4 linked regions of the Homo sapiens genome follow. The protein of the gene in region 1 interacts with the protein of each later gene in a pairwise test. Each region holds a gene or a part of one and is shown in the gene's direction. Other genes may lie near its edges.

Evidence for each region. The genes of interacting proteins can lie anywhere in the genome.
Region 2: the proteins of LMO4 (region 1) and ERCC6L interact in binary tests that used the Homo sapiens proteins (3 or more experiments, as listed by UniProt).
Region 3: the proteins of LMO4 (region 1) and TTLL7 interact in binary tests that used the Homo sapiens proteins (3 or more experiments, as listed by UniProt).
Region 4: the proteins of LMO4 (region 1) and PDE4DIP interact in binary tests that used the Homo sapiens proteins (3 or more experiments, as listed by UniProt).

The regions. Positions count from the first base shown.
Region 1 is NC_000001.11:87,342,328-87,345,948, forward strand, and holds part of LMO4 (LIM domain transcription factor LMO4), read left to right. Parts: intron 1-2,460; coding exon 2,461-2,469; 3' UTR 2,470-3,621. UniProt on the Homo sapiens protein: Transcription cofactor. Plays a role in establishing motor neuron identity, in concert with MNX1, acting, at least in part, to disrupt LDB1-LHX3 complexes thereby negatively modulating interneuron genes in motor neurons.
Region 2 is NC_000023.11:72,232,471-72,236,091, reverse strand, and holds part of ERCC6L (DNA excision repair protein ERCC-6-like), read left to right. Parts: intron 1-3,621. UniProt on the Homo sapiens protein: DNA helicase that acts as a tension sensor that associates with catenated DNA which is stretched under tension until it is resolved during anaphase. Functions as ATP-dependent DNA translocase. Can promote Holliday junction branch migration (in vitro).
Region 3 is NC_000001.11:83,996,276-84,000,387, reverse strand, and holds the start of TTLL7 (tubulin polyglutamylase TTLL7), read left to right. Parts: upstream 1-1,255; 5' UTR 1,256-1,457; intron 1,458-4,112. UniProt on the Homo sapiens protein: Polyglutamylase which modifies tubulin, generating polyglutamate side chains of variable lengths on the gamma-carboxyl group of specific glutamate residues within the C-terminal tail of tubulin.
Region 4 is NC_000001.11:149,004,864-149,008,484, forward strand, and holds part of PDE4DIP (myomegalin), read left to right. Parts: intron 1-45; coding exon 46-574; intron 575-2,337; coding exon 2,338-2,573; intron 2,574-3,580; coding exon 3,581-3,621. UniProt on the Homo sapiens protein: Functions as an anchor sequestering components of the cAMP-dependent pathway to Golgi and/or centrosomes.

The DNA.
Region 1 (3,621 bases):
AAATTTAGAGGTGTTAGGGAGGAGAACTGCAGAAAAACCAGGTTTACCTGTTGATGAGATTACATGTCTTATGCCTTTCATTGAAATCTGTTTTCCACACCTTTTCCAGGATGGCAGTGGTAGGGTATTCATTTTGGAACACTATATTTTAGGCAATGAATAAGAACCTATTAGTGTATGTTTTCTTAATGTTGGAGGCCAAAAAAGAGACAGGTGGCCTTCAAAAATTAATAGCTCTTAAAAGGCATAAGGAAATACAACTTATGGAAATGTTCTTGTCAGACATTGGTGAGAAGCTGTGTTTTGGGGGTGCTGTTAATTAAGAACATTTCCCTGTTGGCGTAAGTGTCTCACATTTTTGCCCTTGGTGCCCAGCTCACCATGAGCACGGTCAATTCACAAGGTAGTTTTTATAAATAAAGGTTTTGGGCAAGCTGAACGTGGTCCAGAGAGATATTAATGAGAGGGCAAGGGGGAAGAGTTAATGAAAACATACTTCCTGGTGGAACATAAACTGCTTTTTGGAACTGGAGAGGCTTTAAAATTATTTTCCCAAAACCCTGTGGCGTTTCTTTTCTGGAGGCAATGAGATGGGGAGAAATGACAAATGGCTTCGTTTTATTATTTTCTCCTCTCTCGTTCTCCATATTTTTGGTAGGGAAAATTGGACATTTATTTTGGCCATTTTCCTTCTATTCGCAGAATCAATTACATTTTTGGTGTATTATGCGTGGTAAATATACTCAAGGATCCTCTGGCTTAAAAGCAATGAGTTGATTATTCGAACATCCCTTCTTTAAAGGCAGTTAATTGCATGGAAAACATAGGCCCCCATTGTCTGGTCCCTTTAAACTTTTATTCTGAGATTTGTTCCCAGGGTCTGGGCTGTGTAGTGTAGTTGTTGTTCTGCATCATTGGCTGTTGTATATTCCAAGAAAAATAATTTTAAGCTTTTAAATCATACAGTGATTGAAATCTTGCATTTCAGATGGACTGAAATCTCAGGCCACTAGTGTTCAAGGATCTACAACATTTTATAACCTATATCACTTAAAGGAGGCTTGGCTAGCTTTGGGAGAATGCTGCCTTCTAGAGGGTTATGTAAATCAGGAATTGTGGCTAATTTTTTCTTTTGTAGATTGCTGCCTGTTCTGGAATTTTTTTCTTCCACTCAAAAGTGTGATGGTGCCATCTAGAATTACCTGTGCTTTTCAGTTTTCAGTGGAACAGGAGTTAGATCACATCTCTTTAGTTGGAGGAAAATTTAGTGAGTGTTCTAGTCTACATGTCACTTCGCAGTTCCCCCATAGTTACATAATTGGTGTTGTGTGTGTCCATCGTAGAAGACATTTGATGCTCATTTATTAAATATGCTTGCTGGCTGCTGCTGCATCTTTGTTCTGGACAGACAAATTACCTTTCTCACACTGAGCTTCCACTCTGGGGAATTAAGCCTTCACCACTTTAATTAGCTTGGAAGTAGGGGGTTGCAGTTCCTAATAGACTACAGGCTTTTTGTAAGTTAGGGAAAGGGTGAAACGAGAACTTCCTGGGAGGCTCAAAATGTCATTTAAAAACCATAACAACCTAATATGTATTATTTCATTTTGGTAATTGCAAACAGATTGTATTTGACAAGTGTGTGGATTTCCATTTCTGACTTAGACATTGAAGCCACCCTTGCATTGAACTATGTTCTTTTATCTATCACAGGTCATTAACACATTGCATGTATTGAATCACATATTTGTGTAGCTATTAAGTGACATAGCAGATAAGAAATAGTGAAAAATATGTGAATATTTGTACATAGAAATTTTCATATAGACACACACCTATAGGTAGTACCAATATGGGTGAATATTTTTCACATGGGGATATCGGAATAATAATGATAACTGCCAGTATTTGTTGAACTTTTATTAAGGGCCAAGCACTGTTGAAAGTGCTCCCATATGTATTATGTAATTATCATAACAGTGTCATTATCCCTTCTTTAAAGATGAGGAAACTGAGACACAAGCAGTTTAAGCAACATTCCAAAAGGTTACACGGTTAAGCATATGAACCCAAAACTTCCTAGGTAGGAACTTGTCTTGGAATGTCCCCGCTATTTAAAAAATTCAAGATCCCACTGCTGGGCAAGATGTTACATTCCTTTTGGAAAGACACTTGCTCTTAACAGAGTTAAGCAATTAATTGTAGTACTTTACACCAGAAACTTTCTGAGCGTCCATTTACTGTCTCATTTTCTTTGCTAGTAAAACTGCAGAAAATGTTATGCTTTAGTTCTTCACTGCCAGAGTAAGTAGCATAGAAAGCCTCTATCAAGTCACAGTTGGAAAGTAATCTAATAAAAGAAGATTAGTGAATGTGGGGAAGACAAAAGCAGTCATGTTTGAGTTTAATATCTCTCAAATTTAGCATTTTAGCTAAGATGCCCGTTTTTATTTCTTGCAGGTCTGCTAAAAGGTCAGAGTAATGCAGAATGCGTGCCTTCATCTCAGATTTGTTCATCACAGGTGGATCCCATGTGTCTTCAGTAGACAAGTCACCTTTGTAGCTAGCACCAGTGCCAGCTCCATGCCATTGCACCTTCTTTAGTCTTGATTGCCCTTCCCGCATTTATTGGTGTATTAAAATGACTGAATATGAACATTAAGGACTCCATGAACCTGGGCTAATGGGAGACTGTAGAGAAAATGAAAAAAGATCCACCAGAGGACATCTTGGGGAGGGGGAGGGAGCTGGGGGGGAGGGAAATGACTAATGAAGCTAATTAAAAGAAGCATTCAAATCTGCTTTCTACCCTCATTAACAATTAGCAGGGCACTGGCCAGAGTTTGTACCCTGTGTTTTACCTTAACAACATTCTATTTGCTCTTTGTATATTTAAGTGTTGTAAGGAAACGTGTTTCAATCAAAACTGACCATGAGATAAAGGAAAGAGATGTGGCTTTTGTGATATTCTATCACAAACACTTATTGTATCTCTGTAAAATACAATGTATGTATGCATGTAAGTGTTTTTGTCCTAATGTTGCTACTCCCATGGCAAAGAAAAAAAAAAGAATGAAAAAAAGAAAAAAATTTGGAAAAAAAAATCAGGCTCATAGCAGCTACTGTGTAGAAAATTCCCCCTACTTCTAATTTGCTGAATGAAGAAAAAAAAAAATCTTTTATTTGTGATATTTTCAGAGACATTTGCTCTAGTATGGTGTATTTAAATAATAAAAACTTAAAAGAAAAAATATTTAATGGTGTTTGGGTTTAAACACTGCTTTTTCTCTTCTGTATTTTGAAGAAATTTAGTTTTTATTGTTGTTGAATAACAAGCTCACTTTAAATTTGAAGGAGTTGAGGGAGGTGGAGTGTATATTTATTTAGCTCTGGGCCAGTAAGGTATTCTTCAAATTACTTAACCACGCCATTATTGGCAGGGGTACAAAGTAGTTTCTAACAGGGTCCTTTCTATAAGTCAAGAATATTCTGTTAACAGCATTTCGTTACACTTCTATATCACAGTAAGTCTTTTGTGTTTATAAATACTTGAGTGTCCACTATTTTGTTTATTCTTTTTCTCAATAGCAAACAAAGCCTTGGGTATTGATGAAAAGTATG
Region 2 (3,621 bases), on another chromosome or scaffold:
AGAATACCAATTCCAACAAATGTTTGATATTGTTGGGACCTATAGTTCATTGATTCCATCTTTTCACTGTTGCACACCCCTCAGGTTCTCACTTCTCTCCTTACATAGTTTGAAGTTCAGAGTCAATAATTGTGGAGGCTTCCTTGTATACAACTTTAACTTATTTTTTTTCTCTTTCACACTTAATTATACTGGCTTGGCAAGACCATAGCCTTCGTATGGTAAGCAGAGTAATGGCCTCCCGAGGATATCCACATACTAATTTCTGAACCCTGTGAATATGTTACCCTCATATGGTAGAGAGGAATTAAGGTCACTAACCAGCTGACCCTAAAATAGGGAAATTGGAATATCTGGGTGAGCCCAGTGTAATCACAGGGTGCTTAAAAGTGGAAGAGGGGCTGGGTGTGGTGGCTCACGCCTGTAATCCCAGCACTTGGGGAGGCCAAGGTGGGTGGATCACCTGAGGTCAGGAGTTCGAGACCAGCCTGGCCAACGTGATGAAACCGTTTCTACAAAAATAGAAAAATAAGCTGGACGTGGTGGTACACGCCTGTAATCCCAGCTACCCAGGAGGCTGAGGCAGGAGAATTGCTTGAACCCAGGAGGTGGAGGTTGCAGTGAGCTGAGATCGCACCGTTGCACTCCAGCCTAGGCTACAAAAGTGAAACTCCATCTCCAAAAAAAAAAAAAAAAAAAAAAGTGGAAGAGGGAGGCAGAAGAGGAGGTCATAGTGACTCAGTGTGAGAAGGATTCAACCTATCCTACCTGGCTCGGTAGATGGGGGAAGGGGCTATGAACCAAGGAATGTGTATGGCCTCTGGAAGCTGGAAAAGCAAGAAGCACATTCTCCCCCTAGAGCCTCCAGAAAGGAACACAGCCTTGCTGCAACCTTAATTTTAGCCCAGTGAGACCTGTGTCAGACTTCTAACCTATATAACCTGCAAGATATAACCTGTAAGATAAAAGATAATACTTTGTGTTGTTTTAACATTTGTGATGATTTGTAACGGCAGCAATAGGAAACTAATACATTTTGCTAAATCCAACTCTGGCCCTCTCAGATGAACATGGTTGAAGAAACAATCATGTGACTGGTCTTACTTGAAATCCATCAATATCGATGTCAAGCAGGCCCTTCATGCTGCCTGGCAATCATAGTACATTTCTCTAATGTATTCACTCATCCATTGTACTAGATGCCTGTTTCATGCCTTCTTGCTTTTCAGACCCTCAACATCTCACCCTCATCTCTCTTGCTTCCAATTTCACTGGGTTGATAGAAGCAATCAGAAGACAGTTTCCAGAAGCTTCTTCCATATCAACCTACTTCCCAGCATTATTCCCTCTGTGTTCTTTGCCTTCTGTCCTGTTAGTATGGATGAACTCTCCATGCTTCTAGCTAAGGCACAACCCCTCCATTTGTGCAAAAGATCTCATCCCTTGTCACTCACTGGTATAAGGACTTCAGCCCACCAATTCTTTCATTGTTAAAAAAAAAAATCCTCTCTTGATCCTATTTTCATTTCCAGTTATTGCTCCATTTCTTCTCTTTCCTTTACAGCAAAATTCCAGGTGTCATATCATTGTCTACACTTGTCATTTCCTATTTCTTTTCTCCTAACTTCTGTTGAACTCGTCCCAATCAGGTTTTCACCCCATCACTTTACACAAACTGCTTTTATCAAAGTCACCAATGACATTCATATAACTAAATCCAACAGTCAATTCTCAATCTTCATCTACCTCGACCAGTAGTACTTGACGAAGTTAATCACTTCTCCATGAAACACATGATTCATTAGTCTTCCAAGGAGCCCTTGCTCTCCGGATTTTCTTCTTACTTCACTGACTGCTGCTTCAGATTCTGTTGATATTCCTCCTCATATCTTCTAAGATAATTTAAATCCCCAGATATGACATTTCACGCTGAAATACTTAAGTATATATTCCTTAAAAAGAACATATTCTTTTTTTTTTTTGAGACGGAGTCTTGCTCTGTTGCCCAGGCTGGAGTGCAGTGGCGCAATCTCAGCTCACTGCAACCTCTGCCTCCCAGGTTCAAGTGATTCTCTGCCTCAGCCTCCCAAGTAGCTGGGATTACAGGCACCTGCTACCACGCCAGGCTAATTATTGTATTTTTAGTATGGGGTTTCACCATGTTGGCCAGGCTGGCCTCAAACTCCTGGCCTCAGGTGATTCACCTGCCTCAGCCTCCCAAAGTGCTGGGATTACAGGCATGAGCCCCCTTGCCCGGTCAAAAAAAAAACCATATTCTTACAAAACCACCATGCCATATCACACCTAACAAAATAAATGAATTCATTGATATTATCTAATACATAGTCCATATTCAAATTTTTTTTTTTTGAGACGGAGTCTTGCAGTGTCATCCGGGCTGGAGTGTGGTGGCGCAATCTCGGCTCACTGTAAACTTCGCCTCCTGGGTTCAAGTGATTCTCCTGCCTCAGCCTCCCGAGTAGCTGGGATTACAGGCACCCACCACCATGCCCAGCTAATTTTTTGTATTTTTAGTAGAGACAGGGTTTCACCATGTTGGCCAGGCTGGTCCTGAACTCCTGACCAGTGATTCGCCTGCCTCGGCCTCCCAAAGTGCTGTGATTACAGGCGTGAGCTACCATGCCCAGCCTCAAATTTTTGAATGGTTTATCAGGATCCAAAGAAGGTCTACAACTTCATTTGGGTTTTATGTTTCTTGAACTTCTAATCTAGAACAGTTCTCCCCTCCCCTCCACTTTTATTTCTATGACAATGATTTGAATTAGTGTGATGTCTTCCTTGTAGTGTCATTAGTTTGTTCTGTCTCCTATAATTTAAACTAAAGGCTTGATAAGATTAAGCTTCAATATTTTTGGCATGAATACTTTATAGGGAAGGCTGTGTAGCTATATTGTGTCATATCAGGAAGTATATAACATCTGACTTTCCTACTTTCAATAATGCTATTGAAAGGTTGATCAATGGGTTCAGTGATTACAATCTGATTCCTCCTTTGCAAAGTTGCATTTCCCCCTTATGATGAGGAAGTAATACGTTCAGGATAGCTTAGTATTCTGTGAATATCCAGTTCCCCACCAACCCATCAGGCTTTCAACCATTGATAATTATTGCTCAAATCAGTTTTTTTTTTTAAAGAGATGGGGTCTCCCTATGTTGCCCAGGCTGGTCTTGAACTCCTAGTCTCAAGCGATCCACCTGCCTCAGCCTCCCAAAGTGTCAAATCAGTTATTAGAGATTACAAAGTGGTGATTTTCTTTTCTGAGACGGAGTTTCGCTCTTGTTGCCCAAGCTGGAGTACAATGACGCGATCTCAGCTCACTGCAACCTCCACCTCCCGGGTTCAAGTGATTCTCCTGCCTCAGCCTCCTGAGTAGCTGGGATTACAGGTGGGTGCCACCACACCCGGCTAATTTTTTGTGTTTTTAGTAGAAACGGGGTTTCGTCATGTTAGCCAGGCTGGTCTCCAACTCTTGACTTCAGGTGATCTGCCTGCCTTGGCCTCCCCAAGTGCTGGGATTACAGGCGTGAGCCACCAAGCCTGGCTGCAAAGTCGTGATTTTCTAGTTTCACCGTTCTTTGTGTATTCATTAGCTGGAATTC
Region 3 (4,112 bases), 3.3 Mb from region 1:
GTGTCCTTTATGAGAAGATGCCCTCACTGACCAGATCAGTTCCCAATGCTGGCAAGGCTGTATGGAGGTCTATTGCAGGTTACCAATCTCACAGGAGTTTTTAGAAGAATAAATGAAGAAATGAAAATGAGACTATTCTCAGCACAGTGGTCTATAGAAAGTGCTGAATTTATGTTGATTTACTCAACGAAGGACAAAACTTTAAATTGTGAAATTTTATATTTTTTGGGATGCACTTGGAGGGCCTTTTTTTTTCCTACCTTTAATCACATTTTATAGGTAGTTGCCAATTCTGTTCTATCTTTTCTTTTTTTCTACAGGGAAAACTGTACACTTGTCCTGATCTTCACCATGCTCTGAAATGAACCTGTGTGAACCCAGCGTGACAGAAGCAGGGACCACAAAAGTCTAAGGAATTCATGTGTTAGGACTTCTTCCAGTTCTATACAATTCATTTTATGAGAAGACATGATTGCCTTCCCGTTTTCAAGACACGCAACTCTAAAATGGTGAACAATGAACCTCGAATATTCTTTAATTTCTGCAACAATCTTCTGTAAATCTTTATCTCGAAATGGCTTCCTAAATCTACATTTTTTTACAACTGCCGTGGTTCAACATTTGCTTAGCAGGAACTCTAGGTCAGAGCTGTCCCTCAGCATCTACGGGATGGGGCCCCACCTGATTTTATTTCCTAACTTTCGAGCTGGCCTCAGATACCCGTTTATTCTTTGCTTCACAAAGATGCTTAGATAAAAGATCTGAAGACTCTCTTCAAAGATTCAAAAAGCTCCACTGTTTTGTGGGAAGATGTCTGTGGTCAGATAGGCAGGTGGATCGGGCGCCTAGGGCCCGGAGGTAGAAGGAGGTGGCCGGAGGCGCTCAGGCCAGCGCCTCTCGCATCTCTGAGGAGGGGCGCCGCCCAGGCGCTCGCGTTGCTAAGTCCTCTGTTTGCCGCGTTCTAAAGGAGCCCCGAGCGGGACCAAGGCAAACGGGGGGGGGGTGTGTGTGGCCCGGGAAAGCTCGAGCAGTGTCTTCAGTAAACCCCCAGAAGAGGCAGCGGCCCCTCCGTTGATCCCTCCTGTCCCCAGGACCTCCTGACTCCGAGGGGGCAGAGGATTCCCCGAGTCCTTTGTTCCTCCCAACCGTCGCCGCCCCCGGCGCCCGCGCCTCTCGGCACGTCGTGCACCCCCGGCCGCAGCAGGCGAATGGTCTGGCCCGTCGGTAGCCGCCACCCGCTTGGGCAGCGACAGCTGTTCCAGGCACTCCGCGTCGAGCACCGGAGTCCCGAGCCGTGGCTGCCACGGGCGGTGGGCGGGCGGAGGAGAGCACCGGACCACCAGTGCAGGCTGCCGAGTCGGGGCGGCCGCCCACGGGGAAGCTGCGAGGCGCGGGAGCACCTGGGGGACCGCTTGCAGCGGGGACGCGAGGACCCGGGCTGGGCTTTCCTCACCCGGGTGAGTACCTGCTGCCGCCATCCTCCCCCGACCCCCTTCCATGTCCCCACGTCCCCAAAGGCTCCGCCCTGGCCCTCTTTCCGGGCCCCCATCCCCGGACTGTCACTGCTCTGGGGACACCGTCCCCGCTGGGAGCCGCGGAACGGGGAGCTGCTGCGTTCGTGCAAATGATTCAGCACCATTCGTGCCCTGAGAGGTTTGGGCAGAATGGGGGAGGGAGAGGGCGGAGGGGACGGGGTCAGTTGCTGTGATCTCAGCTCAGTTTTTAGGCTCCAGATGGGAGACTCGGGCGGGCGGGGTCGGGTTGGGTGAACGAGGAGGCTCCCTGCTGGTTTATTCTGTAATTCCGTCGTTTTCCCACATCGTGGTATAAGCCTCCGCGAGTATGCGGGGCATTCTTGAAAGGGTATCAAAATGCCCTTTTCGCACATGCGAGTGAAGTCTAGGGCCCTTGTAGGTACCTCTCACTTTCTCCACATCTTGCTCTGTTGGATGCCTGACTCATGCCATCATCCACTTATATCACATCGCAGCGTTCCCTCGACTGATGTAAAAGATACCCTATGAAAGTTGCCTTGTATTCTGGGTGGGTTTGATTGATCCTGGCATAGAAAGAAAAGATTTAGGAGAGGTAGGAAATAATACCTTCATAGCCTAGGCACTTACTTTTATATATCGTATTTTATTAAATCATCATAATCCAGAACCAAATGTGGAAACTGAGGAGCAGGGAAGTTAAATTACATTCTCAAGGTCACAGAACAGGAATTCGAATATAGGTTTTCCTGACTCTATAGTCCATGGATTTTCCACTGTATTAATGGAGTGTGTCCAAGTGTACATATATATGCTCTATTAGATATTAAACATAGAATTAATTAATTGAGGAGTAATCTCAAACAACAGCAACAACAACCTGTAAACTTTCTGCATAAGGAATTATTGCTCCTTCAATATGAAAGAAAGATGCTTTGAATCATGTGAAAAATAATCTATTTTCTTAGAAAGCTTATGGCAAAAAATATGTGAACAACACTACATAGGAGAGTGAGGTCATAACAGGAGATGTTCAGCACATTTTTGGCAGTGATATTTGGTGGATGCTCAAGTGTTGGAGAAGTCGATTAAAAACGTAAGAAGAACTCTGGAAATCTTTTTCTGTCTTAAATGTTAGGGAGACATTTACAGTAATAATAGTTACTTAGTTCATGAGGTGTGCGACTGAACTGCACCCCACAATAGGGTGACAGGTGAACCCATACTAAGATAATGTTACTTGATTCATTACAACTCTGTGATATTGCATAACAGGTGATAACTCCATTTTACAGACTAAGGAACAAAATTCAGAGAAGGTTCAAGACCACTCAGTAAGCCATGGAATTTGGACAAGCCTTGACTCTTAGTCAGTTTAGAAATATGAGTGTTGTAGTAAAATGTAGTTCTTATATAGTGGGAAACTGAATTAGTTTGTTGTTACCCTGCCGTTAAGAGTCAACAATTATATTGACCTTCTATGCTCCTTCTGTAAAAATAATGGATGCTAGGTCTTTCTTCGCCCGTTGATGGGTCCTTTGACTTGCTTTCATTAGCGACTTACAGATTTTTTCTTAAGAAATGCATCTCTTGTTTATGTCTCAAGAGGCAGGTTGCTATAGTACAGATGCTCATTATCTCTAAATACTCACATAGTATTGATGGTAGGCAGGAACAGAGTCATCTTAGTATGTCATTTCTAAAGTATTGAACCATTTGCATTGGAGAATTCTTTTTCAAGTTAACGGGGGTATTGATAAAGTCCACTGCCTAAATAAGGACATAAAATGGAGGCACAAATTTATATTTGTTGTTCAAACAAGAGTATGAGAAGTGGGGTCTTGTGAAGAGTCTTGAGTTTGATTCCTAAAAGTCATTTCATTTTGTTCTTTACATGGCTATAACCTATATCCTGAACCTTGGCAAGGCATCTTGTAATCCAATCTGTTTAATCCTAAGGGGGACAGCAGAACTGGCATGAATGAATAAGCAAAAATACAATACCACTGCTGTTAAAAAAAAAAAAAGGAAAGTGCATGTCCTGGTGATGGATGGTCAGCAGCAACATTTTAAAACAGAGACAGCACATTTTACTTAGATGACATCACTGAGAGTATGAATATAATACCAACTTGGCTTTAGAACTGCTCTCTCTCCTCTGTCCAATGACTACAGTCTGCAAACCATCTAAATTCCCCACTTCAAGGAACTTAAAGTCTAGCAGGGGAAATTTTACTTACACGTGAGTAATTAACAAATAACTTAGAATTGGCTTAATACCAGAAAAGGGTGGTGCAGACCTACTGCTATAGCGGTACCTTAAGAGAAAAGAGAAATAGTAGAGCCTTGGATGATCAGAGGATCAGGAAAGTCTTCATGGGTTGAAGTGAATTAAATCAGTCTCAGAGACTGGAAGGATTCTGATAGGCAAAGAGAAAGCCACATAAAGGTTCAGCTAAGAAGTGCTCATCTACTGTTTGGATACATGGTGAAAGATCATGAAGAAACTTGAATGTCAGACAGTGAGATCTGTTTCTGATCTGTTAATCATTTCTCTTTCTTACATTCTCCATATCTGTTGCCCCGAGTCCCCTTCCAGGAAATGGTCTGTTTCCTGGG
Region 4 (3,621 bases), about 62 Mb from region 1:
GCACATCCAACTTTTATTTAGGAAGACATCTTTGTCTTTTTTCAGAGTGTGAGGAGCACAACAGCCTCAAGGAAATGGTCCTGATGGAGGGGCTGTGCTCTGAGCAGGGACGCCGGGGCTCAACACTGGCTAGTTCCTCTGAGAGGAAGCCCTTGGAGAACCAGCTAGGGAAGCAGGAAGAGTTCCGGGTATATGGAAAGTCAGAAAACATCTTGGTCCTACGAAAGGACATCAAAGATCTGAAGGCCCAGCTGCAGAATGCCAACAAGGTCATTCAAAACCTCAAGAGCCGGGTCCGGTCCCTCTCAGTTACAAGTGATTATTCGTCTAGTCTGGAAAGACCCCGGAAGCTGAGAGCTGTTGGCACCTTGGAGGGGTCTTCACCTCATAGTGTCCCTGATGAGGATGAGGGGTGGCTGTCTGATGGCACTGGGGCTTTCTACTCTCCAGGGCTTCAGGCCAAAAAGGACCTGGAGAGTCTCATCCAGAGAGTATCCCAGCTGGAGGCCCAGCTCCCAAAAAATGGACTAGAAGAGAAGCTGGCTGAGGAGCTGAGATCAGCCTCGTGGCCTGGGTAAGGATGGCACTGTTTGGGTACTTTCTTGATTGAAAATGTGTAAGTTCATGCTTGGCGTAGGGTAGCTCAGGCAGTTGGAAGAAAGAACATGTCTGGGTATTCACAGGGACACTGATTTAAATGGTAGATACAGGTCTGCAGAAAAGACAGGTAGGCAACCAGGAGGGCATAGGATGATGTTCCAGTATCTGGGAGATACCGGGTCTCAGGGATTTCCTCTTAGGGATATATTAGTAAAGATGGTATAGTATAGTAGTAATACTGGAATCAGACTACCTACCTCTGGTGCTTACTACCCATGCAACCTTCTTAACCTTTCTGAGCCTTTGTCCTTACCTATTAAATGAGGATGATAAGAGAACCCATCTCAAAGGGTGGATATTAGGTTTAAATGAATTAATACAACTGCTGACCAGGCGTGGTGGCTCATGCCTGTAATCCCAGCACTTTGGGAGGCCAAGGCAGGTAGAACACCTGAGGTCAGGTGTTCGAGACCAGCCTACCCAACACGGTGAAACCCCATCTCTACTAAAAATACAAAGATTAGCTGGGCATGGTGGTGCACACCTGTAATCCCAGCTATTCGGGAGGCTGAGGCAGGAGAATCGCTTGAACCTGGCAGGTGGAGGTTGCAGTGAGCCGAGATGGCACCACTGCACTCCAGCCTGGGTGACAGAGCAAGAGTCTGTCTCGGAAAAAAAAAAAAAAGAATTAATACAAGTGCTTAGAATAGTGCCTAGCATATGTTAAGCTCTCAATGCTATTTGCCATAGTTATAAGTGTTATTGATACTTAGTGTTGAAAACACAGACATTCATCTTGGTGTGTCCTGGTTATCTATTGCTAAGTAATAACCACTCTAAAACTTAGTGACTTCAAACAACACTTTATTATGCTTCATGGTTCTATGGTTTGACTGGGCTCAGCTGGGTGGTTCTCACTTAGGGTCTCTTGTTTTGGGTCCCATCAGTTGATGGTATGAGCGTTTAAATGATGGCCATCATTGCAAAATGTAGTCAGCCACAGTATCGTAACATAGAAGAAATTCAGGCATCAGGTGGTGGTTAAAACAGAAGGCATGAAAGGTTCTATCTAGACTTAGGATGAAATGATGCTAATTATTCATTGAGTAACTGCTGTGAATCTATGTGATACTGGTGCTGTAAGGGATGTAAAATGCAGAACTATGTTTATTCTCACAGACCTTATGATTTATCTAGGGACATATAATTAACACATGTATAACAGTTGAAGAACAGTGACATACTAAATTTTTTTTTGATACGGAGTCACTCTGTCATCCAGGCTGGAGTGCAGTGGTGCCGTCTTGGCTAACTACAACCTCCACCTCCTAGGTTCAAGCAATTCTCCTGCCTCAGCCTCCCGAGTAGCTGGGATTACAGGCATGTGCCACTATGCTCAGCTCATTTTTTTTGTATTTTTAGTAGAGGCAGGGTTTCACCATATTGGCGAGGCTGGTCTCAAACTCCTGACCTTGTGATCTGCCTGCCTTGGCCTCCCAAAGTGCTGGGATTACAGGCGTGAGCTACCACGCCCGGCCCGTACTAAGTTTTTTAATGCAATACTTTATCAGGGTAGAATTTACTCTTAAATACCTCCTATGGCTTATGTGCCAGAATTCAGCTTGGGGGAGTTCCTTAGAGATGTTCTCATAGAAATCTCTACAGAAGCCCCCATAACTCCATAAGTTAGCTTCCACTCTTTCCATACTTACACTTTCCTCTTCTGTCCTGCATTAGGAAATATGATTCCCTGATTCAGGATCAGGCCCGGGAACTGTCTTACCTACGGCAAAAAATACGAGAAGGGAGAGGTATTTGTTATCTTATCACCCGGCATGCAAAAGATACAGTAAAATCTTTTGAGGATCTCCTAAGGAGCAATGACATTGACTACTACCTGGGACAGAGCTTCCGGGAGCAACTCGCCCAGGGAAGCCAGCTGACAGAGAGGCTCACCAGCAAACTCAGCACCAGTAAGTTGGCCACAGGGCTTTGGAATACTCTCAGTCACCCCCACAGTTCCAGCCCCTGGTGGCCACCACATCTCCACTGCAACTTTTTATCCTAAGGTCCTGTTTCTATTTCATTTCCTGGGGCTAATACAGGATCAAGACTGCTCAGTGGGGAGCATGGAGAGGAAAACACAGGGCTGGAGATGCCATGGTTACAACTATAGAAACTTCACCACTAATGGAATGTGACCTGTGGGGCAGGGGCAGCATCTCTCTGATGCTAAGAGGGAGTAGGGGACATGAGATGGAAGGGCTTTGTTATAGGAGGAAGAGCCCTGAACCAAGAACTACAAGACTCAAGCTCTGGCCTGGATGCTGCCACCAACTCGCTAAATGCCTTATCCTTGTGGTGTCTCCATTTATGGCATGGTAATGTGCATGCAGGTACTCCACATATGGATAAAGCGCCATGCTCTTTTATACATGGTTTAGGCACTGGCTGCAGTAGTTCAAGGGCTACATTGGTTATTATTGGGGTCTTCTACTCAGAATTTCCAGCGACTATCCAAGGGAGTAAAGTAGGATCAGACTTGGGAGCCACCCAGCCCACCACCTGGTGGCAGATGCAGAGGTGGGGCAGGGCTTCTTGTCATCTCCTCAGAGACCAGTGCAGGTTCTGCATGAAAGCTGTGGTGGGGCATATGCATTGGGGAGCTAGTCTGCAGCAGGACATGGAGGCTGGAGTGTCCCGCAGGGCAGCTGGGCAAGGGCCTCATGATTAATGGAACAAAAGACATTATAAATGTTTTACCCTGATTTAGGGCAGAGGAAGTCATCATGGTGACCGGCAGGTCAGGGACAGTGGGGTCACTTCTCTAGAGACACAAGCTGAGGTATCCCAGAATAACTGTTCTGGATGCACACATGAAATGCTCACTACTCTGTCTCCAGATAGGCTCCTGCATTTGTAATGCGGGAAGTGGGACCAGCCTAATTTCTTATCGTCTCTTTCTAAATTTGGTTTACAGAGGATCATAAAAGTGAGAAAGATCAAGCTGGACTTGAGCCA